2 separate regions of the Homo sapiens genome follow, and region 1 is linked to region 2. Evidence: fine-mapped expression QTL. A gene starts in region 2. The other region holds a variant in brackets. All regions are shown on one strand. Distances are from middle to middle.

Evidence for each region.
Region 1: its variant is fine-mapped to the expression of ZCCHC4 in whole blood (TOPMed, PIP 0.95).

Annotation. Positions count from the first base shown.
Region 1 is chr4:25,349,355-25,354,735 of GRCh38, forward strand. ZCCHC4 (zinc finger CCHC-type containing 4) reads left to right here. Exons shown (of 13, transcript NM_024936.3): 7 at 138-288; 8 at 2,235-2,335. Among named protein-coding and RNA genes, the nearest start is that of ANAPC4, 25 kb to the right of the region's middle. The variant C/A (reference allele first, on the strand shown) is at 2,873.
Region 2 is chr4:25,309,505-25,314,885 of GRCh38, forward strand. ZCCHC4 (zinc finger CCHC-type containing 4) reads left to right here and starts at 3,270. Exons shown (of 13, transcript NM_024936.3): 1 at 3,270-3,432; 2 at 4,542-4,660. The coding sequence starts at 3,306. RefSeq lists enhancers at 517-576, 1,197-1,336, 2,924-3,800, 3,329-3,388 and silencers at 3,049-3,118, 3,126-3,330.

The sequences.
Region 1 (5,381 bases), 40 kb after region 2:
GGAATGCTGCGGTGGCAAGATGACTTGGTAAAGTTTCCAGTATTAAGAGAGAGACTGAGTCTAATGCATTCTCCTCCAAATAGGATGAAGTGCCTCTCTCTAGTCCTAATTTAGAAATGAATTTTTATTTGTTCCAGACTGCCCTTGAAGTATGCAGAGCATTTTTACAGGAAGATAAAGGCGAAGGAATCATTATGGTGACGGATCCTCCGTTTGGTGGCTTGGTTGAACCTCTGGCTATTACATTCAAGAAGTTAATTGCTATGTGGAAAGAAGGTCAAAGCCAAGGTGTATAATTTATTACTGCAAAATAAATACATATCTATATATCTACTTCCTGTCAAATATTAGCTGAGCTCAGTGAATCAGAGCAGTGATAGAATATACATGTCTTGAGTTCTCTTTTTAAAAACAGGCTTATTTGATGTTGCAGCAAACTTCATTATCATGATATACTTTGTATTATTCTAATCATGTGGATTTTTTTAATGGCTTATAGGTAAAATACTATGTTTTTGATGGGGATAATGGGACATTATGCAGAACAGCAGTGAACTGCTGTCATTCTATTCAGTAAATATTTACCGAGTGGCCACTGTGTGCCAGGCACTGTTTAGGTACTAGGAATAGATTTTTGAACAAAGCCGACACATACCTCTGCCCTGTGGATCATACATTCCCTGTTCCTAAAGCCTGGCCCAGAACACTAAGAGGGCACTCAACCTGAGGTCCAGGGCTCTACGCTTTGCCAGGATATGAGTTTGGAGGTTAGACATCCCATAGGCTGATTGTGGTTATCAGTGACACAGATTCCCAGCCCTATAGGTAGGCTAGTGGCTGGGGGTTATTATTCAGTTTAAGTGACTTAGCCGTGTACGGTCTTCAGGCAGGTACTGCTTCTTTTTTTTTTTTTTTTTTTTTTTTGAGACAGAGTCTCACTCTGTCACCCAGTCTGGAGTGCAGTGGTACAATCTCGGCTCACTGCAACCTCTGCTTCCCAGGTTCAAGCGATTCTTCTGCCTTAGCCTCCTGAGTAGCTGGGACTACAAACATGTGCCACCATGCCCACCTAATTTTTTTTCCCCTGTATTTTTAGTAGAGACAGGGTTTTGCCATGTTGGCCAGGCTGGTCTTGAACTCATGGCCTCAAGTGATCTGCCTGCCTCAGCCTCTCAAAGTGCTGGATTACAGGCGTGACTTAGGACTTCAAAGTATTTTATATAATTATCTAATTAGTTGGTACATTCATTTTTTAGAAACATTTTCTAGCTCGCAAGTTGATAAATTTGTTAAGAGTGTCAGGAATTTTGTGATCATGCTTCTCCACTAATAGTGCTTTGAGGGACAATGCAAATGAAATATAAAACGTGACTCATATTGTTAAGTATTTCACTTATTTGCTGTTTTTAAGTCCACTAATTAGAGTGGATAAAGTCAATGTCATTGGGGAAGCAATAAAGAGCTTTGTGGGCTTGAATTCCTGTTCTGCCACTTATTAGCTGCATTGGACTTGATAGCTTATGGCTTCAGTTTCCCTATCTGTAAAATGGGATAACATCTAATTCTAGGGATTATTGTAAGGAGACAGTACATAGAATGTACTTATTATAGCTTAGTGTAAGCACTATGATTAGGCTTGCCTCTGATTAAGGCTTTTCAGCCTATTGGAATTTTAGCTGTAATAGTGCTATAATGAATACTAGCCTATACTAGGTGCTTTGTAAGTAATAGCTGTGTTCCCTGTCTCTCACAAACACTAATTTTGGTAAAACTGTTTTGAAGAATCTTCCATGATGCAGACAAGGTTGATTCATCCCTGAAAACTAAGATAATGAGTTGTGGCAGAGCTGGGATTCACACCGAAGACCTACTGCCTTCTAGTCCAGAGGTCCTTTCACTGCATCATGACTACCTTTGTGCCTCAAAAGTGGCACTCCTTTTCTATTTTCAACTTTTTAGGTAACATCTTTGCCTTACCTAGACAATAGTAATATACATATAAGGGTTACTTTTACATACTCTTAGTAGCTATATTTCGATATAAAGGAATATGTCCACTGACCTTTGGGAATAGACAGGTTTGAAATGGCACTCTGGTAAATATTTTCTGTTTTTGTATGAGATTTAAATGTGTTGAATCATTGCAATTTCTTATGCTAGCGGAAGTTTTTCTACTGTAGCCTTCTATTTTTTCTTTAATTTACTATTATTTTTTCCTTTTTGTGATCCATTAGATGACAGTCACAAAGAACTACCCATTTTCTGGATTTTCCCCTATTTTTTTGAATCCCGAATTTGTCAGTTTTTTCCAAGCTTCCAGATGCTGGATTACCAGGTAGAGTACATATTCTGTTTTCTGGCATGGTTGGGGAATGGAGATTCTACTTGAATAGATATAAGACTATTCATTGATTTTAGTAAAATACAATGAGCTGTATTAAACACTAATATTATACCATATATAGCTCAGTCCAGTGTTTTCTAAATATCAGTAATCCCTAGAGTGCATGTTGAAAATACAGATTGAGTACCAAAATAAACCCACTAAATCAGAATTAGAGGACAAAGCCCCAAGAAAAAATATCTCACCAAGCTCCTTGGGTGACTCCAAGTGTGCTAGGGTTTAGAGCGGCTGATTTAGTCTTTCATCATCACTAGGAGATTTTGCAGCCCCCCCACCCCTGGTTCATCATTATGAACGTTGGTTTCCTCTTTTCAGGGCATATAGAAAAGTAAATCACCTTTGTGGTTGGTGAAATGCCATGCACACTTTACTGCATCACTCTTGGGATGTCAGGAGTGTCAGAGAAGGCAGAGATGGCTCTGTGTGAATGTGTTGATTCCGGGAGGAAGTTACTGGAGTGAGTAACTT[C/A]ACAGCAATGACTATGGAATTTTCCCCCTGCCTGAAATGAGAATGAGGCTGCTGTCCACAGCAGCTCCACCTGGTCTTTTAAGTTCATTCTGCTTTAAACTCCACTTTCCTGTATTTTCTTCCCTTGTGTTTGAAGTTAACCCTGTTGTCGCCATCACTGTTTATGGTCTTCAGGCAGGTACTGCTTCTTTTTTTTTTTTGAGACAGAGTCTCACTCTGTCACCCAGTCTGGAGTGCAGTGGTACAATCTCGGCTCACTGCAACCTCTGCTTCCCAGGTTCAAGCGATTCTTCTGCCTTAGCCTCCTGAGTAGCTGGGACTACAAACATGTGCCACCATGGCCACCTAATTTTTTTCCCCTGTATTTTTAGTAGAGACAGGGTTTTGCCATGTTGGCCAGGCTGGTCTTGAACTCATGGCCTCAAGTGATCTGCCTGCCTCAGCCTCTCAAAGTGCTGGATTACAGGCGTGAGCCATTGCACCCAGCCTGCTTCCTCTTTTTGTAAGAGTTTTCTATTTGAGTTTTCTGAATAATCGACTAGCCCCTGATTAAGGCAGAGTTTTAGCTGTAAATGTCTTCACTAGCTGTTGCAAGCTAGCACTTGGTTCTAATCTTTCTAATCCTGAAGGCATATACCATTATGAAAATTATTTTAAAATTCTGAAAGAAACAGTGTTACCAAAAATGAGAGTAAAAGACTCTACTTGTGATTCCACCCAAACAGCAGACACTGTACTTTCAAAGTGTTCACTTTTAATCTTTTTTTAAGAGTACTTTTTACAGGTTTGTAATCGTAGAAGACAATTTTGAATTCTGCTTTCTTCATTATGTCTTATAAGTATACATTTTTAAACATAGCTACACAATCTTTATGCTTTAATAAATAAATTATTTCATTTACAGGCTATTCCCTTCTTTTTGGACTACAGGTTGTTTTTACCTTTTAAGGTAATATAAATAACACTGCTGTAAACACCTTTTATGCATATAATTTTTTCATGTTTTATATAACTTGCTTAAAATAGATTTCCAAAACTGAGATTACTTTATCAAATATAATGGACTTTTTTATGGCTATTAAGTAGCATTAACAGGTTTTGTTCTAAAAGTGTGTAGCACAAGCCATTTTATACTTGACTTCTTGAGCTCTGCTTTGAGCAAAATTTATATCATAAGTCTTCTCAAAGCTCATTTAACTCGTTTTTGGGGCATCAAGTTTTCTGTTTCTTGTCTGAGGGATGCTTCTAGTATTGACATTTGCAATACGGAGATAGCTGACATATTCTAAAGAAGTTAACTACGTAAACGGGTTCTAGTTTTCAGCAGCATCTTCCGCCTTTGGCAATGGATGGTCATCTAGTGCAATGTTTGGCACACAGTAGGTGCCATGTATATGTCAAATGGATAACTGAGTGAAATAGCATGAACCCTGGAGTCAAAAAGGATCTGAGTTTTAATCCTGGTGCTGGCACTTACTTAACCCCTCTGAAGCTTATCTTACCTGTTAAATGAATGTGGCAATATATCTGTCTTTTAAGGTTTTAAGGATTTTATGAAATAATACCTGGAAAGGCTTAGCCCTGTCCTTAACACACAGCAAGTATTAAGTTTAGGTTCTTGCTGTCGGCATTGTCATCACCATCACTGTCATTGTCATCATTCAGATAGTCCCAAGGTAGGGGTAAAACTCTCCCTCAGGTCCTTTTTTGATAAATCTGAGAGATTAAAATTGCATAATTGTATAAATTGGGGCAAAAGTAATTACAGTTTTTGCCATTCATTTTAATTCATTCATTCCTTTTAATGGCAAAAACCGCAATTACTTTTGCACCAACCTAATAATTCGTGCCCTTAGAAAACTGTTACATCCATATTTAGAGAGGAGTTTTTCTTTTTTCACTATGGGCAAGAGTTTGAAATGGTGAGAGGACAAAAGAAGACAGATCCAGAATACAGCAGATGAGAGAGGCAATTTTGGAGTAACCAGCTGTCACTTGTTAGGCAGTCTGTGTTACTAGGAAAGAACTTTTGGAAATATTAGGGTTACAGTTTTGAGAAATAGTTGCAAGGTCCAAGTGTGGACAATAATTATGCACTTCAGTGTATTGATGAAGAAAGGTTCTGATTAGGTCATATGTGTCTGACAGGCTAAAAAGCAGTCTTCTCAATAAAGAGAAAGCCAACCTTTGGGAAAAAAAATGAGAACAAAGTCTAAAAGCAAATTTGTTTTTCCTAATTCCTGCTAAAGGGAAGAACAGTACTGTCCATTACATGCTCATGTTGGAGAAACTGTGCCGTATCTCCTCATGTATTTATAAACATTATTTGATTACGTTCTTGGACAATTTTTCTATTTTTTGAAAATTTCTCTGGACCTATTATTCCTTTCTGAGCATTTTGCTTTCCTCTTTTTCTTTTGTTACTTTAACTTCATTAAAATTTTTTTTTTAAATAGTGATGGGATCTCTCTGTGTTGCCCAGGCTGGTCTCGAACTCCTGGGCTGAAGC
Region 2 (5,381 bases):
CCTGGCCAGCATGGTAAAAGCCCATCTCCACTAAAAAAAAAAAAAAAAAATTAACTGGGCATGGTGGCATGTGCCTGTAATCCCAGCTACTTGGGAGGCTGAGGCAGGAGAACTGCCTGAACCTGGGAGGTGGCGGTTGCAGTGAGCCAATACTGCTCCACTGCACTCCAGACTAGGCGACAGAGTGAGACTCTGTTTCAAAAAAAATTAAAAAAAAGAAAGAAAGAAAGCTCACCAGTTTGACCAGACAATCGGCTGGGAGAGTAGCTGAGTTCCAGCAATCTTAGCAGCCTGGGACCACGCTCTGTGTGATAAGTGTCTCATGCATCCATGTGAAGAGATCACCAAACAGGCTTTATGTGAACAACAAGGCTGTTTATTTCACCTGGGTGCAGGCGGGCTGAGTCCGAAAAGAGAGTCAGCCAAGGGTGGTGGATTATTATTAGTTCTTATACGTTTTGGGATAGGAGGTGGAGTTAGGAGCACTGTGTTGCGGGCAGGGGGTGGATCTCACAAAGTACCTTCTCAAGGGTGGGGAGAATTACAAAGAACCTTCTTAAGGGTGGGGGAGATTACAAAGTACATTGATCAGTTAGGGTGGGGCAGAAACACATCACAATGGTGGAATGTCATCAGTTAAGGCTATTTTCACTTTTGTGGATCTTCAGTTGCTTCAGGCGATCTGGATGTATACGTGCAGGGCGTAGGGGATATGATGGCTTAGCCTGGGCTCAGAGGCCTGACAATAAGTGTAATCTAGGTCTCTCCTGGTGCTTAGGCCTCAAGGGACCTATTTTCAGTTCTGTCTCTGGCTTCCTTTCAGAACCTTGCTGAATCTCTCAGTATGTTTCTACTCAAGCATTTTCCTGTGCAGACTAAAGACACTATCAGGAAATTAAATGAAACATGTATAACTTATTGGTCATATTCATAATCCCATCAGTAAATATTTAACACAGGCTATTTACCATATATATATCTGAAAATAAGGTGAGTTTTTTTTCTCCCCAAAATTATCCCTCTGCAAACAAAATGGCCTGATGTTTGAAACCTTCAGCAGCTCTCACATTTTGCAGTGCCCTCCCATTTACCTTATTTGGATCAATCTTTGTTGTGTTTTTACTGTTTGGGGAAGCTTATCTGTAAAGGCTGCACATCTGTACTGGTTTTGGCTGCTTAGAGAGGTTGCCTCACAGAATCAGCATTATTTAAAAGAGAAAGAGGAAATACAGACTCAGTAACTCTGGTTTTACGAGTTACAAATTCACTTGCAAATTTTATAAACAAGTCTTTTAAGATCACAAATTTGTACATCTAAAACAAATTTGTAAATAAAAGTGCTAGAGTTCATGTGAGTAGGTAGTTAGGTCTTTTAGTTTTTATTCTGCCTAGGGCACTGTCTCAAGGGGTCCTGAGAATGTGTGCCCAGCTAGTTAGGTCTTGAGATAGTGTCCGAGAGTATCATCATCATAGCTGTAGAAAGTTTCCTATCTCAAAAGACCAGACATGTGCAGATAATATACACTGAAAAAGTGTTCTGGACAACTTGAAAAAGGGGACACTGGTACATCAAAGATACAGATGCTACTGGTGCAGATGGAGAATTTGAGTAAAACCATTACATGAAATGTGAAAGAAAAACAGCCATGTTTTTACAGTAATAAACCATAGCACTCAATGTGTGAAGTTAACTAGGCACATGCCCCAATGGTTCTTTAAATAACATAAGAGACTATTTCGTCTACAACCATAGACATGTGGCTGCGTCTTGATTACTGCACTATAAGACTTGAAATTGAGTAGGCTGATTCCTCCCACTTCATTATTCTTTTTCCAAAATTGTTTTAGCTATTTTAGTTCCCTTGCCTTTCCATATAAATTTCAGAATATTGTCTAAATGTACAAAAAGAATCTGGCTGGGATTTTCATAGCAATTGTGCTACACCTGTATAAGCATTAAACCTGGGGAGAACTGATATCTTTACTATGTTGAGTCTTCTGATTTATGAATGCAGTATGTTTCTGCATTTGTTTATTCTTTGATTTTTTTTTTTTTTTTTTAAGACGGAGTCTCACTCTGTCACCCAGGCTGGAGTGCAGTGGCACAATCTCGGCTCACTGCAAGCTCCGCCTTCCGGGTTCACGCCATTCTCCTGCCTCAGCCTCCCGAGTAGCTGGGACTACAGGTGCCCGCCACCACGCCTGGCTAATTTTTTTGTTTTTGTATTTTTAGTATTTTTAGTAGAGACGGGGTTTCACGGTGTTAGCCAGGATGGTCTCGATCTCCTGACCTTGTGATCCACCTGCCTTGGCCTCCCAAAATTCTGGGATTATAGGCGTGAGCCACCGTGCCCGGCTATTCTTTGATTTTTAAAAAACTTTAAAAATTGCTTATTTATTTTAGAGATGTCGTCTCGCTTTGTTGCCCGGGCTGGTTTCGAACTCCTGGATTCAAGCAATCCTCCCTCCTTGGCCCCCCAAAGTGCTGGGATTACAGGTGTGAGCCACTGCACTCAGCCTTGATTTTTTTTAATCAAGCATTTTGGAGTTTTTAGCATACATAAAGCTCTGTACATATTTCGTTAGATTTACACCTATTTCATTTATTTGAGTGATTGTAAGTGGTATTCTATTTTTTAGTGTTCTTGTGATCATTGCTAGTATTTAGAAATCCAGTTGATGTTTGTGTGTTTATCTCATATCCTGCAACCTTGCTGAACTCAGTTTAAACCGGAGGTGTTTTCCTGATAGATTCTTTCGGATTTTTAAAATGTGGACAATCATGTCATCTGCAAATCAGGACGGTTTTCTTTCTTTCTTATGTATAAATGTCAATGAGTATGCAACTATGATGTGCAACTTTCAGCATTGTCCAAAAGTTACAGAGGATGATGCAGTGACTGTGACTTTGAAAAACAAAGAATGATCCTTAAATCACAGCTGCTGCAGCCATTTCAGCTATTTGGCAGAGGTGGTAATGCTGCCTTTTGGACCTACAATACAACCAAGTCTTTGTTCGAATCATCTCACTTCCTGGCTATATTCTTAAGAAAGGAGGGTGCTTCATGCGCTGAGCTCATGGCACAGGTCCCGCAAGTGACCTGCGAGCCCCACCGCTAGGGGCCGCTTAGGTGCAGCCCCCAGGTGGGCGGGGACTGCGTTTCGGGGCGTGGCCTCCGCCGCGGCAGCCCCCGCCCAAGCTCCTCCTAAGCGCCTGGGGGCGCTGTGGGTCGCTTTGGGTCGCGGGGGCGCTCTTTCTCAGCATTCTTGTTTCGTACTGAGGCTTTCGGGACGGCGGCGGGAAGATGGCGGCCTCCAGGAATGGGTTTGAAGCCGTGGAGGCAGAGGGCAGCGCAGGGTGCCGGGGAAGCTCGGGAATGGAGGTGGTGCTTCCTTTGGATCCTGCCGTCCCCGCCCCGCTGTGCCCTCACGGTGGGTCAGAGTCTGGGCTCAGCCTAACTGCCGGGCGCTGAGGGTGTGAGTTGGCTTGGAAGTGGCTTTTGGGGCTCCTGTATTTTTACCCGCCTCTTTCCCTCACCAGTGTGCTGCCTAGAAAATACTCCTTCCTCGGAACGCGGTGTTTTTCAACTTACTTGAGAAACATTCAGAGCAAGTCTCCACTCTTGTGGTTTTGGCTCCAGGACTATTTCATCTCTTTTGGGGGGAAGGGGCAGAAAAGTAGGCAAAGAGAAGAATGCATGGTATTGAATAGTTCTCGTTGACAAGTACTTGGGGATTTCATTTGTTGATTTGCTCTCCCTTCAAAAATAAAAAATTAGGGAGAAAAACAGTGTAATTCTTGCCTGCGAACTAGACTCAGTTTTTCTCTAACTTACAGAAAGTGGGCGTTTCCAGCTCAAAGCTCAGGTTTTCACTGCAAGGGTAACCGCGCAAGAGATGTCAAAGTCCTCAATTCTCTGAGTCCCTTCCTTGTTTTAGTCTCAGGTTTGTAATATTCACAACGTAGACAGCAACTGTACCGACAATAGCATTTTCTTTCTGAAGAGACCGGTTTTCAAAAATTATTTATAAGTAGTCACTGCCGGAATGTTGTAACAGAGAGAAAAGAAACATTCATTAAACACAGAGAAGCCGGCGTGGTGGCGTGCACCTGTAGTTCCAGCACTTGGGGGGCCGAGGCGGGCTGATCGCTTGAGCCCAGGAGTTTGAGACTAGCCCGGGCAAAAATGATGACACTCCGTCTACAAAAAAAGAAAAACAGCTGGGGACACGCAACTGTAGTCCCAGCTACTCGGGATGCTGAGGCGGGAGAATCGCTTGAGGCTAGGAAGCAGGATCTCAGTGAGCCATGATTGTGCCAGTGCGCTTCAGCCTGGGCGACAGAGGGAGACCCTGTCTCAAGAAAACAAAACAAAAAACCCTAACAAAACAAAAAACAACCAACCAAAGAGATGGATTTAATTATGATAAATTGTGCCTAAAGCTCAAACAAATTTTATTTAAGGGCAGCGAAAACTAAGAACTTGACGTAGATGACCATTACTTGACACTTTTTTTTTTTTTTTCTATTCTGGAACTAGGACCCACTCTTCTGTTTGTAAAGGTGACCCAAGGGAAAGAAGAAACTCGGAGGTTTTATGCCTGTTCAGCCTGTAGAGATAGAAAAGACTGTAATTTTTTTCAGTGGGAAGATGAAAAGGTATATCAACTTTTTGGATATTTATTTTTTATTTTTGGTATGTGTGACAATTTTGTTGAGAACGTGTAAACCAATAAAAATATGCGGTCTGAACATACAAGATAAATCTCTTAAGAGAGATGGAGATACTATGTTTGTTGGTTCAGAAAATGAGTTCATGTTTACTCTGATTACTGATATCTTAAACTACTGTCTCAAAGTCTTATTTCCCCATAAGACTCTCTGAGGTGGTAATATTGGGTGGGGCTGATCTTCTGTGTGTTAGCTTGGGCTTCTGTAACAGAAGTACCATAGGCTGTGTGGCTTAAACGACAGACATCTGTTTCTTACAGTTCTGGAGACTGGGAAGTCCAGGATCAAGATGCTGGCAGATCTAGTGTCTGGTGTAGGTCCTGTCCTCTTCCTGATTTGCAGAGGGTCATCCTTTCTTTATATCCTCATTTCCCAGAGAGAGGAAGCAAGCACTGTCTGTCTTAGAAGGACACTAATCTCATTCCTGAGGGCTCTACCCTCTTGACGTAATTACCTCTCAAAGGCGCCTCATTTAAATACCATCACATTGGGGTTAAGGCTTCAACATACGAATTTTAGGGGGCACAAACATTCAGTCGATAGCACCGTTGGCAGATACAGATTGCTCACTAAAGAGAAATCATGATCATTCCAGAAAGTGTTAAAAAACACTTTTTTTGAACATTTGCATTGAACATCCCTTATACAG